Homo sapiens: one gene and its partners. The protein of the gene in region 2 interacts with the protein of the main gene of each other region in a biochemical or structural test. Each region holds a gene or a part of one and is shown on either strand. Other genes may lie near its edges.

What was found.
Region 1: of the proteins of KAT2B (region 2) and SATB1, one has a biochemical effect on the other in vitro, tested with the Homo sapiens proteins (2 studies listed by BioGRID, with this or other methods).
Region 3: the proteins of KAT2B (region 2) and HMGA2 form a complex in vitro, tested with the Homo sapiens proteins (one study listed by BioGRID).

Annotation. Positions count from the first base shown.
Region 1 is NC_000003.12:18,415,306-18,418,957, forward strand, and holds part of SATB1 (DNA-binding protein SATB1), read right to left. Parts: intron 1,774-3,652; coding exon 1,597-1,773; intron 829-1,596; coding exon 702-828; intron 1-701. UniProt on the Homo sapiens protein: Crucial silencing factor contributing to the initiation of X inactivation mediated by Xist RNA that occurs during embryogenesis and in lymphoma.
Region 2 is NC_000003.12:20,099,328-20,102,979, reverse strand, and holds part of KAT2B (histone acetyltransferase KAT2B), read right to left. Parts: intron 3,119-3,652; coding exon 3,026-3,118; intron 1,694-3,025; coding exon 1,512-1,693; intron 1-1,511. UniProt on the Homo sapiens protein: Functions as a histone acetyltransferase (HAT) to promote transcriptional activation. Has significant histone acetyltransferase activity with core histones (H3 and H4), and also with nucleosome core particles.
Region 3 is NC_000012.12:65,822,881-65,826,632, reverse strand, and holds the start of HMGA2 (high mobility group protein HMGI-C), read right to left. Parts: upstream 2,151-3,752; 5' UTR 1,363-2,150; coding exon 1,252-1,362; intron 1-1,251.

The DNA of each region.
Region 1 (3,652 bases), 1.7 Mb from region 2:
AGACAGATTTCATTTTGCGCATCAAACAGATGCATCTGGAGATTGCTCTCGGTCTCCTGATTGTTCCGATTAGTTAATTACTTTATACAACACATCTGCTGTATCGATGCATGAATTATACATCAGCTGCCTGTGGTGGCTATTTTTTCATGTTACTTCTACCTTCCTGCTCTGATGCGCTTGGGAAGACAATTTAAGGTGTACTGCTTTCTCCTGAGCCATCATGAAAAGCTTTAATGTATTAACCGATTTCCTTTCATTACTCTGTTCATATGAATTAAAAATCATAAAAAAATAAATAAATAAATAAGACTGTGGTAATAGTGAATAAGACAGTCTTTCACAAAATGTACACAGATGGCACTGTTCATGATATGCAAAAATATTTTTTTCTTAAGTAAACTTTATGTAAAATGCCTTCTTGTGATGCATTATTTAATTGACTAAACGTAAAAAGTCTTGTCTTTTGATAACCTGCACAAACCTACACATTTTTTGTGTGTGTGGGGGGGGGGATTGCTTTTAAATTATACATTGAAGTTAGGAAAAAAGGCAGAAGGATAGGGTAACAAAATCGATCTGTATTAACCTTTCTGAAACACAGACTAAAAAAAAATTGAAGGTCGACCAGAGAGAAATGCTTCATTTCAAAAGACCAGGTAAGAAGAATGTTTCACCCTAGATTTGCTGTCTTGACTCACCTGTGTAACTGAATTTTCAATGTGACCACATGATACACATCTTGAAGCATATCTGCTACTGTAGCATCAGGGGCATCTGTCACGTAAGACAGTGGAACTGGATTCCACTTTCCAACCTGGATTAGCCCTATTTCAGATAAAGAGAATATGTCACTAAATATTTTACCCTCAGATAATATATCTACTAGAAGGGTGTTCTTTTCTTTTCTACTACCCCTACCACAAGCAGTACCGTTATTTCTGTTTGAATGATTCCCTTCCCTCTAAAAGGCAGGTCAATGAAAATATTCACAGCTTAGCTTTCCAAATTGTAAAATTATGTAAATGACTGTAGGGTTGTTTATTATTTTGGAAATAAAACCCCATCAATAAAACCTATGCATAAGGCCACATTTTCCTAACTTACAGGAAGTTCTAATAAGACATAGCCGAACCAGTTCTAAATGGCTTTATGATTTAGATAAGATTCTCTATTGCAGTGGGAATCAGCATTGAAAAATACTTTGCAGCCCATAAAACCATCAGAAACAGAATAAAAGAAACAGAACTAGATATTCAGTCATAAATGCAAATTGACTCTCAACAGTCCATCTGCTCAAATACGCTCCTCACTTCCTTGTGGGTCCTCAGTGGAGCAGATTATTAAGGTCAATAAGCATACTAATGATTCAGCTGAAGTAATTTAAAAAAAAAATCTACCTCGACATTCCACATGAGCAAAATGTGTGTTAACTAAACCAAACTGAATTAAGCCAATTTTTTAAAGCCACAGCCTATAAGGAACCAATGTAATACACAGGCTACAGTTCTTTGAATAAAAATATTCAGTGCTTTCTCTGCAAGGTAAACAAAGAATGCTAAGCAATTTTTCCAACCCCACGTACACATTATTTACCTTTGGCCTGGGCAGCAGAGCTATGTGAATAACCTAGAGACAGCAATGCCATTTCGATCAGCTGGTTGAAAAGCATATCCTTTCTCACCAGCACAAATTCTGCATGCTCCTCCTTGCAATCATATTCAATGGCGTTTTCATAATGTTCCACCACACAGAAAACTGGCAGCATGGTTCCTATCAAAAAGATGAAGAAGAAGAGATGGAAAACCAACAATCTTCAGAAATACAGCTTGGGGGTGGCGGGAGGAAATATTAGCCATGAAAATAAATAATCACAAGAGATTCACTGTGCTTCCAAGGCAGACTGGGTACAGTACAGGCAAATGCACACAAATATATACATTCTCATATTATTTAAAGTCGTAACAGAAATATTTAAGTAGAATATGAACTTGGTCCTAAGGTAAGCTGTGCTCTAAATTAACAGTGCATTTTCCAAAAGCAATGAATGCAGAATTACCTTTCTGATCAAATAATAATGGTGACGAAAGAGAAATAAATGTATCTTCTCTAATTTGCTATGAGTAGTATACAGTATGCAAACATAACTCACCATTTATCTTCAGAAGAACCCACCTTTCTACTGCTTACATGATTTTGTTAATAATAAACTTTTCCTGGGTTTGTGTCCAAACAAATTATCTTCGACCACGAAATTTTCATTTTCTTCCTTTTTTAGATATTAACTCTAACTGGTTCCACAAATCATTTTCTTCCTTTTTTAGATATTAGCTCTAACTGGTTCCACAAAAAGTACTTAACCAAACTGGTGCTCATAATACACAATTTCAATATCTGCATAATGTAGAAAAATAACATTTGCTTTTATGAATACTCATTTAACCTACCTAACTAAAAAGAGAGCACGGTACCCATAAGTCTTTAAAATCAACAATCTTTGTTACAGTAAATAAGGTAAAAATGAGAGATAGAAAAGGAAACTGACATACTAGGATAAAGGAATCTGCATAGATTTGGTGTGCTCTCTCTTTATATATTTTAATCCAATACAGTAACTCAGTAGCTAGATGATTAATAAGCACCGGCCACACTACTATTAGAAAGAGGCTTCTTCTAGAAATTGATATTACGGAATGCTGTGGTACTCAAGGTGTTTATGCAGCGCACTGTCAGACTTCCAATGATAACGGAAAAGGGTTAAAAGCAGATGCATCTGAATTGTACTGTGGCAAACTGCCAGAAGGGTATCATCTTTAGCATAAATGATGACAAGGGTTACTTTAACAGGGCACCCAGGATCCACAATTAGTCCTACAATACTAATGCCTCTATAAGCTCTGTCCTCTGGACTCACAGAATCCTACCAACTTCTGAAGATGACTTAGTGCACACCAACCGTAGCTAAAAATCAGGATTTCCTACTGACACCAGAGAGGCCCTTCAAAGATTCTCTATTTGCTTGTTTCTGCTGAACAAAAGCCGGCAATAAAACAGCTACATCTTTCTACATGTGAGTCTTCACCAAAGCTTTAGTGAACTGTTCACAAGAGATTCTAGGTCTGACAAAACCCTTTAGGTTTACTTAGAAAAACTCACAAACTCATTCGGAGGTACCAATAGGCTAGGCATGAAAAACAAGCCGCAGAGCTTGCCAATATTTTTGTCATTCATTCAGCTGTTTTATACCAGAGAAAGAACCCGTCGGGGATCAGAAGACAACTTGGGGAGACCACAGCAAAAATAGCAATATGCAAACTGGCGATTCCTTCCTTGGCTTGAAGGTATTCTGGCAAAATCGCCTAAACAAATAAAACCATTCAATCCCTTTTTCTTAGTAGTGTTTTCTCATCTCAGCCATAATTTTCATTTAGCACCTATCAGACAGAAACCATGCACATGAAAAATAAGATGAAAATGTTAATAAAAACCCACAAAAAGACTTTAGTAATTTTGTTATTTGGAGTATCTGAGACCCTCCTACAATTAAACTGCATTTTTAGAATACATCCAAAACAAAACAAAACAAAACCAAAAAGCATTTGAGCAGGAAGTGAATTTACTGTACTTTTAGTTTTCCTCCTCCTGTCCTGAT
Region 2 (3,652 bases):
GAAACTAGGTCAATGTCAGAGAGGAAAGCTTATTTTAAATTATACAATTCTTCCATGTTATCTGCTGTTACAGAAAATAACCTGGGCACAAGTGGTCTTGACAGGCTATCAAAAGATACTACTGCCCACTTTAAATCAGGAAAAAAGTAGGCACTAAAGCTCCCTAATGCAAGCTTGATGTGCCTCTGAAATATAAACAGAGAAAAGTTATAGAAAAGTTATAAAAAAGTTGAAAAGAATGGATGACCCAAGTCACAGTCCTTCAGATGAAAATAAATGTAGGTCCTTATATTTTGTATGGTACAAGTTTAAGATTTGTAAAACCAATTCTGTTATTCTGCAAGTAATAAGCAATAAAAATAAATTTCCACTTTAGAAGAAAATATATGTTCAATCCAAGACTATCTGCAGAGTTTGAATGTCCAGCAATAGAGAAATGGTTAGGTAAATTGTGGTAAATCAACTCAATGGACTATAATGTAACCTGTGAAATGTTTGATATGATATTAAGTGAAGAGACATAAAGGCTACAAAATTCTACATTTTCTTTCATTATAACTAATGTAAAATGTTATTTAAAAGGACAAAACCTGGAAGATAATATGTATAATGATGTCAGTTCCATCACAGTTCTGGAACTAAGCTAATCTTTCCTTTAAAAAAAATTTTTTTTTTGAGACAGAGTCTTGCTCTGTTGCCCAGAGTGCACGATCTCAGTTCACTGCAAACTCTGCCTCCAGGGTTCAAGTGATTCTCCTGCCTCAGCCTCCCAAGTAGCCAGGATTACAGTCACGTGACACCATGCCCAGTTAATTTTTGTATTTTTAGTAGAGATGGGGTTTCACCATATTGGCCAGGCTGGTCTTGAACTCCTGACCCAAGTGATCTACCCACTTTAGACTCCCAAAGTGCTAGGATTACAGGTGTGAGCCACCATGCCCAGCCTAAAAAAAATTCTTTAACTTCATTATATGGTCATTGCATTTTTTGAGTGAGGGCTCTAATTAATTTCAGAGTTATAGTGTAGCTATCTAGTCAACTATATTCAATAGATAAATAACACAAGCCACATATGGATTTTAAATTTTCTAGTAGCCACACTGGAATGGTAAAAACAGGTAAAATTAACTTCAATATATTTTATTTAATCCAATGTATCCAATGTACTATCATTTCTACATGTAATCAATATTTTAAAAGTATTAATGAGCAATTTTAAACTCCTTTTTGGTACAATCATAGAAATCTCAATTCAAACTAGCCACATTTTCAAGTGCTCATATAGCTAGTGGCTATCACACTGGGTATAGATGATTTACATCCCTCACACCTCAACATATTATGATAGCAATGAAAAGCAGGAGTTTGCAAGTTAAATTATAAAGACATTATCTCTGAATTGATGGAGTCATAATGATAACTAGGCAGCCCTATACTTATAGAGTCAAGTACAATTTTAGGTCTGTAACAGGCTTTATGGGGCCAAAGGAAAAGAACTTGCATCTGATTACCTTGTGTAGTTCTCTTTGTATCCAGAAATATCATCATTGGGAGATCGCAGTCTTCGTTGAGATGGTGCCTCCAGATGCCAATAGTTGATGCGGTTTAGGAACATTTTTGCCAACTCAACTATTGTTTGCCTTTCTTTTGCTGGCAGGTGACTAAATTTGTACTGCACAAAGTTATTCACACCCTTAAAAAGAGGGAAGGCAATTTCTTCATGCAGCTATGCAATCATACTAATTCTGAACACCCACACAGCCAGCATGATTGGTGGTTATTAGCAAAATAACAGACATTTCTCTATTCACAAAAATCTCTTCCTTTTCCCTAAAAGAAAATAGCAATCCCCAGAGGGAATCTTGCCTCAGATCACGGTGGATGAAAAGTGACAAGACAGAGAGGCTGTGAGTTGTGATTCTACGCCTGCTGAAATCCTGAAGCATTAAGGAGAAAATCAAAACCATGGACTGAAAAGGTCAAAACCCCTGAAACAAGAAAATATGACTGTTGTGCAGAATAATTATTGCTTTACTATCAGCAGAGTAGCCCACATATAATGCAGTTCTTAGATAAATATTGTTTTTACATTACAAAAATGCTAATCAAAAACCTGCTATCATGCCTACCACTGAACTAAACAACTAAAATTTAAACTCTTTACTATCATTTGTTTGAAGTCAATAAGCTTACCAAAATATATATATCATTCAAAATTATGGGCTTTTAAAAAAACTGTTAATTTAATCTTTCTACAGAATATTTCCATCTCATCTAATTTCAAATAAAAGAGCAATGAATTCTTATTTAATAGAGTTTGGAGGCAAAATAAAATTTACTGAAAACTGACTGATAAAAATGCATTTATTTTTAAGGATTCTGGTATCATGACTTCAGTAGTCATTCTCATCAAAAAATTCAGTCCAGAGTGTTTTTGTTTAGCCAAACAATCAAAGGCTAAAAAAGTGATGCTAATGAGAGATACTGACAACACCTAACAGAAAAACTCTTTACATTTTAACAGATTCCCTGAGTAAAACGGCTTCTTTCCAGGAATCATAATGTAGCAGGAAGTCCATTTCTGGGTACAAAATCTCATTTCTTTTTTGCTTTTTTTGCTTGACTTACAATGTTTTTCACATTGCTACTAAATCCCCTCACCTCAATAGGCTTTCTCAGACAGTGCCAAGCAAATGGACAAAGACTTCATTTTAAAGCACCAACAACAAGAAAAAGCACATTTCATGTGTTCTTCTTACAAACTACATGTTCTACTTAATGTTTTTCTTCCCCAAACACACAGTAAACTGTGAGTATGTAACAACCCTAAAAGGCAAAAGCTAGATCATGTATTAAATTAGGTATACACCTCTGATCCAAAGCCTCCAGGACAATTTCCACAGACTGGTAAACATCTCTAACCTGGGTATGGAGGAGGGAAGCCGTAGATAGAGATATAAAAGGAGGATTAAAAGATTTCTTCAGCCTTGAGCCAATAAAAAGAGGGCTTTTAAAATCTTTTTACCTGTTCAATGCTAGGTTTTTCAAATGGGGGTTTCTTTTCCAAAGAGCCTTCAACCACAGGTTTTCCTCTTTGTAAAATAGACTTTCTCAAGAGCTGCAAAGAAATCATTAAAAAAAAGAAAAAGAAAAACTTAATTGGTATGTCTATCTCTCTCTCCTCTCTCTTCTGTTTCTGTCTGTCTCTCTCTCTCTCTCTTACACACACACACACAGCCTTTAAAGGAAGTTACCATATTCTATTTATCTTAACTATATATAAACAAATCCTTAAGTCAATAAAATGGGCAACTATCAGGTAACCCAAATTGGCCTTCATGTCCACGGCCAGAGTTATGAAGAAATGGACACCTTTCATGTTCTGGGCAGCCTAGGCCACCCATGCTGGTCCAACAGACACCACCGTCCCATGCACTTCCCTCTTCTCCCCACTGTTTCTGGCTTTCCATTGACCCAGAGGCCTGGTATGCAACCCTACACACTTGGCACATGCCCATCCAGGCCACTATAGGTGTGCTGAAGCTCTAGAGGATCTTATTTAAAGACGTGAGAGACCAAGATCTATTCTGCACAAAAGAGGCCAGGGGACAGGAGCTGTCTACAGCAGCTGCACGGCATACGCATCATCTAG
Region 3 (3,752 bases), on a different chromosome or scaffold from region 2:
TCGGCTTGTTTCCTTTGATGATTTCAAAAAGGTACAACTCTCAATTTTTCTAAAATGCACTGGCAAGCAAACATTGTTCAGTTTCCCCACCTTGCTCTCGGACAACTTTGGGACTCTAGGATTATTTTCTAATCGGCGTGTTTGCCATGAAGGAAGCGATTTAAGACTAAGCAGAGAGCAAGTTTTAAAGCCCGAGAAAGTGGAGTTTAAATGTTCTCAATAGACATATCCCGCTCCAACTCTGCCCGCCGCGGCTTGGAAATTACAGCGAACAAAACCCCCAGCCCTGCGCGCTGAGCGCAGCTCTGCAAGCGCCGGCTGCACGCTTAATTGGTTGCATCCGCAGACAAAACCCTCCACTCCGCAGGGTCCCGGGCGCCCCTCGATCGTCCCCTACTCAACCCCCGGCCACTGGCCTTGGAGAAGAGCATTTAATGGCTGCAGCTCTGAGGCGCGAGATCCAGGGGCAAAAGGGGGACCGGGCCCCTGACAAGGAAGCGACCCTGGCTACCCTGCACTCTCTTGGACACTCCTTTCAACGCGCCCTTAGCTGGGCGAGTTAACCCCGTCCTGCGGGGAACCAGGCTCCCCGTAGCCCCTGCCCCGGGCTCCCTCCGGCGGCCGCCGCATATTTAAAGAGCCCAAAAAGGACCAGGCAGCCGGGTCTCCATGCGTTCTTTGTCGGGAGGGCGCGAGTCTTGGGCCACCGAGAGCTTGGAGGAGGGCGCCAAGGGGGCGGCTGCGGCGCGCCAGCCCCCGACCCGCGAGCAGCCCCGGGAGGCGGGAGAAAGAGCCTCCGGCCCCCAAGACTCTAGCCCCTTCAGCCCAGATCGGCCGAAGCGCCCGGGTCCCCGGCACCTCCTTCCTCCCGGGCAGTTGCAAAAGCAACTCGGAAAGCGCCTGCGAGCCCGGGTTTGTCGGATCCCGGTCGCTTCCAGTCACTGGGCGACACCGCGCCACTCGGGGCCGTGCACAATAGCGAAAGTCCGAGGACGCGCTTCGCCCGACCCCACCTCCCGCCTTCCCCGGGCCGCCCGCCGCGGCTCCCCACCTCCCCGCCCGGAGGGTTGCTGGCGCCCCGGGGCCGCGCGGCGCACTCGTGGGGTCTGCGCCGCTCCCCCCGGCCGGCCGGCGGGCAGTGTGCGACGGCCGCGGCGACTGGGCTCCCGCACTCCGGCCGCCCCGCGCGTGTCTGGGCCCCGGCAGTGGGGACGGGGTGGGCTGGTGCCCCCACCGCGCCCTCGTACTGACTTGCTGCTGCTTCCTGGGGCGGCCGCGTCCTCTCTTCTGAGGCGCTGGGGCGGCAGGTTGTCCCTGGGCTGAAGTGGACGGCTGCCCCGCGCCCTCACCGCGTGCGCTCATCCTGCCTCCCGCCGCCGCTACCGCCGCTGCAGCCGCTTCGCCTCGACCGCCCCGGAGCTGCCCAGCACCTTTCGGGAGATGAGGTGATAGGGCTGGGGACGCCGGCGGGGCGAGCGCGAGCTGGCGGGCTGCGAGGGCTGCTGTTGCTTAGGCTGCCGCCGCTGCCACCATCAACACCGGACGTCCAGCGGCTGCCAAAAAGAGAAGAGGGGAGGAGGAGGAGGAGAGGAGGAGGCGCTGCCGGTGGCGGCGGCGGCGGTGGGTGGGTGCCGGAGGTGGAGGTGGCGGTGGAGGTGGAGGTAGCAAGAGGAGGAGGGAAGCGAGGGAGAAGGAAGAGAGGCTTTGAGGTCGCAGAGGCTCCTCTCGCGGGTTGGGATCAGGAGTTGCGGGCACCGGGAGCACTTCGGAAGCGGCTTGGAAAGGGAAGAGACTTGGAGTGAATTGTGTCCCTTGAAATGTTAGGCGGGGAAAGAATTCCTCCTCCTCTTCCCCCCACCCTGCGAGAGAGAGAGAGAGAGAGAGAGAGAGAGAGAGAGAGAGAGAGAGAGAGAGAGAGAAGAGATTGAGATTGAAAGTGCCTTGGGCAGTCGGAAAGCAAAGGAGGATGGGGAGACTCCGCCGGGATAGGGTCGGGCACGGAGCACAGGCAGAGGACAGAGTAGTGGGTGGCACCGCGCCTCCTAGGGTGGCGGGAGCAGGCAGCGGCGGCACCGGAGAGTCGGAGGGGGACGGGCTGCTAGCTCCTGAGTCTTGCACCAAGCGCGCGCTGCCCGGGCTGGAAGTTTTCTGAGTTCCTGCCCCAAGATTCAAGTGGGATGAGTGTGTGTGAGTGTGTGTGAGTGTGAGTGTGTGTGGTGTGTGTGCGTGCACGCGCTTGCGCTTGGGGAGGGGGTGGTGGTGGGGGGAGTGCCCACCTCTAATCGTGGGCGGATAAAGGGGAGGGGGTTGCGCAGGAAGAAAAGTATGAGGAGGAGGGAGGCCAGGCGGACCGCCGAGCCAAGGCGCCTGGCTGCTAGCCAGAGGCAGCGTTCGAAATACAACTGCCTCGGCGGCGGCGGCGCCCGGGTGCCACCCGGAGCCCCGCTCACGTGCTCCCGCCCGGCGGCGGGGTTAAAGGGACAGGCCGGGGATCCCGGGCTGGCTCGCCGTGGGCCTAGCTCCACCCGCCTCTCGAGGTCACCCCTGGGCAGTTGTCCTGGGAAGGCGCGGGAACGTGACTGTCCCGGAGCCACGTTTCGGGGCTTGGCCTTTACCTGCGCCTCTACCGTGCCGAGCCAACACTTTGCAGGAAGCGTCTAGGCTGCACCTCAGGCAGCGCACCGGTTCACTGTGAGTGGGAAGGGACTGCAGTGGAGTGGGAGAGGTCCCCTGACAGCCGTACTCCGCCTCGGAATGCCCTCACCACAGAGCCTGCGGGCGGGCGAGCGCGCACATACACGGAGACATGCATGCAGATACACACGAACACGCGTGTAAGCACATGCACGCAGATACACGTGGACACGGGGGCATTCATGCGCTGGTAAACACCCGCATTTACACACACACACATACACACAGGCACGCAGATAGACATGCACATTCGCAGACACATGCAAACAATGTGCACACACAGAGCGCCCCAGCTTCTTCATTGAACTTTTTTCTCCAGGAAAGACTAGAGGCAACCGAAGTTCCCTCCCCATCCCCCTCCCCGGGAATCCGATGTTCCCAGGGTAAAGGGCACCTTGTAGATTCCTAACACCACAATTGCACTCACTGCCCAACTCTCCCTTCAGTTTACCTCGATTTAACCTTCTGCCTGAGAACTCTCTTTCTGCCAAGTCCTAATTTTATGGCCTGGGCTGTTCTGAGTTATGTGAACACCATAATGGCCACAGTCCGTTTTTAAAAGGTGGAGTACATTTTTAAATGTACCTCTTTTCATCCTTGAATAACACAAAACTCTGAAAAAATTAGGTTCAGATTTTCACACATCACACCCAAAATTATTTTGGACTAATTCCAAAATAAAAACTTTCACCTGGGGAAGAATTTATTTTTTTCAAAGATACAGACCACCGTGGAATAAAAACGCCTACTTTGCAGCCCTAAGCAGGAGTTAGGCACCGCCAGGTTCCGCTGTGCATGTGGAGGAGGCGCGTGTAAATGTCTGCTTTGGCGCGGCAGCGCTGATTGGTCCGCGTTGCCATTTTAAATCCATTTCCAGCTGCCCTTTGCAGAGCTGGGACACTTTGCTGCACGTTGAGTGCTCTGCAGGAACCCAGGGTTTCTGCTGGGTCTGGGAACGCTTAGCTGTAATGGAGAGAGAGAGCCTCCATCCCTCCGGATGGAGCCCAGCAGCTGACTGGGGAGGGAGGGGTCTAACAGGAACCAAAGGTTTTCTGTCA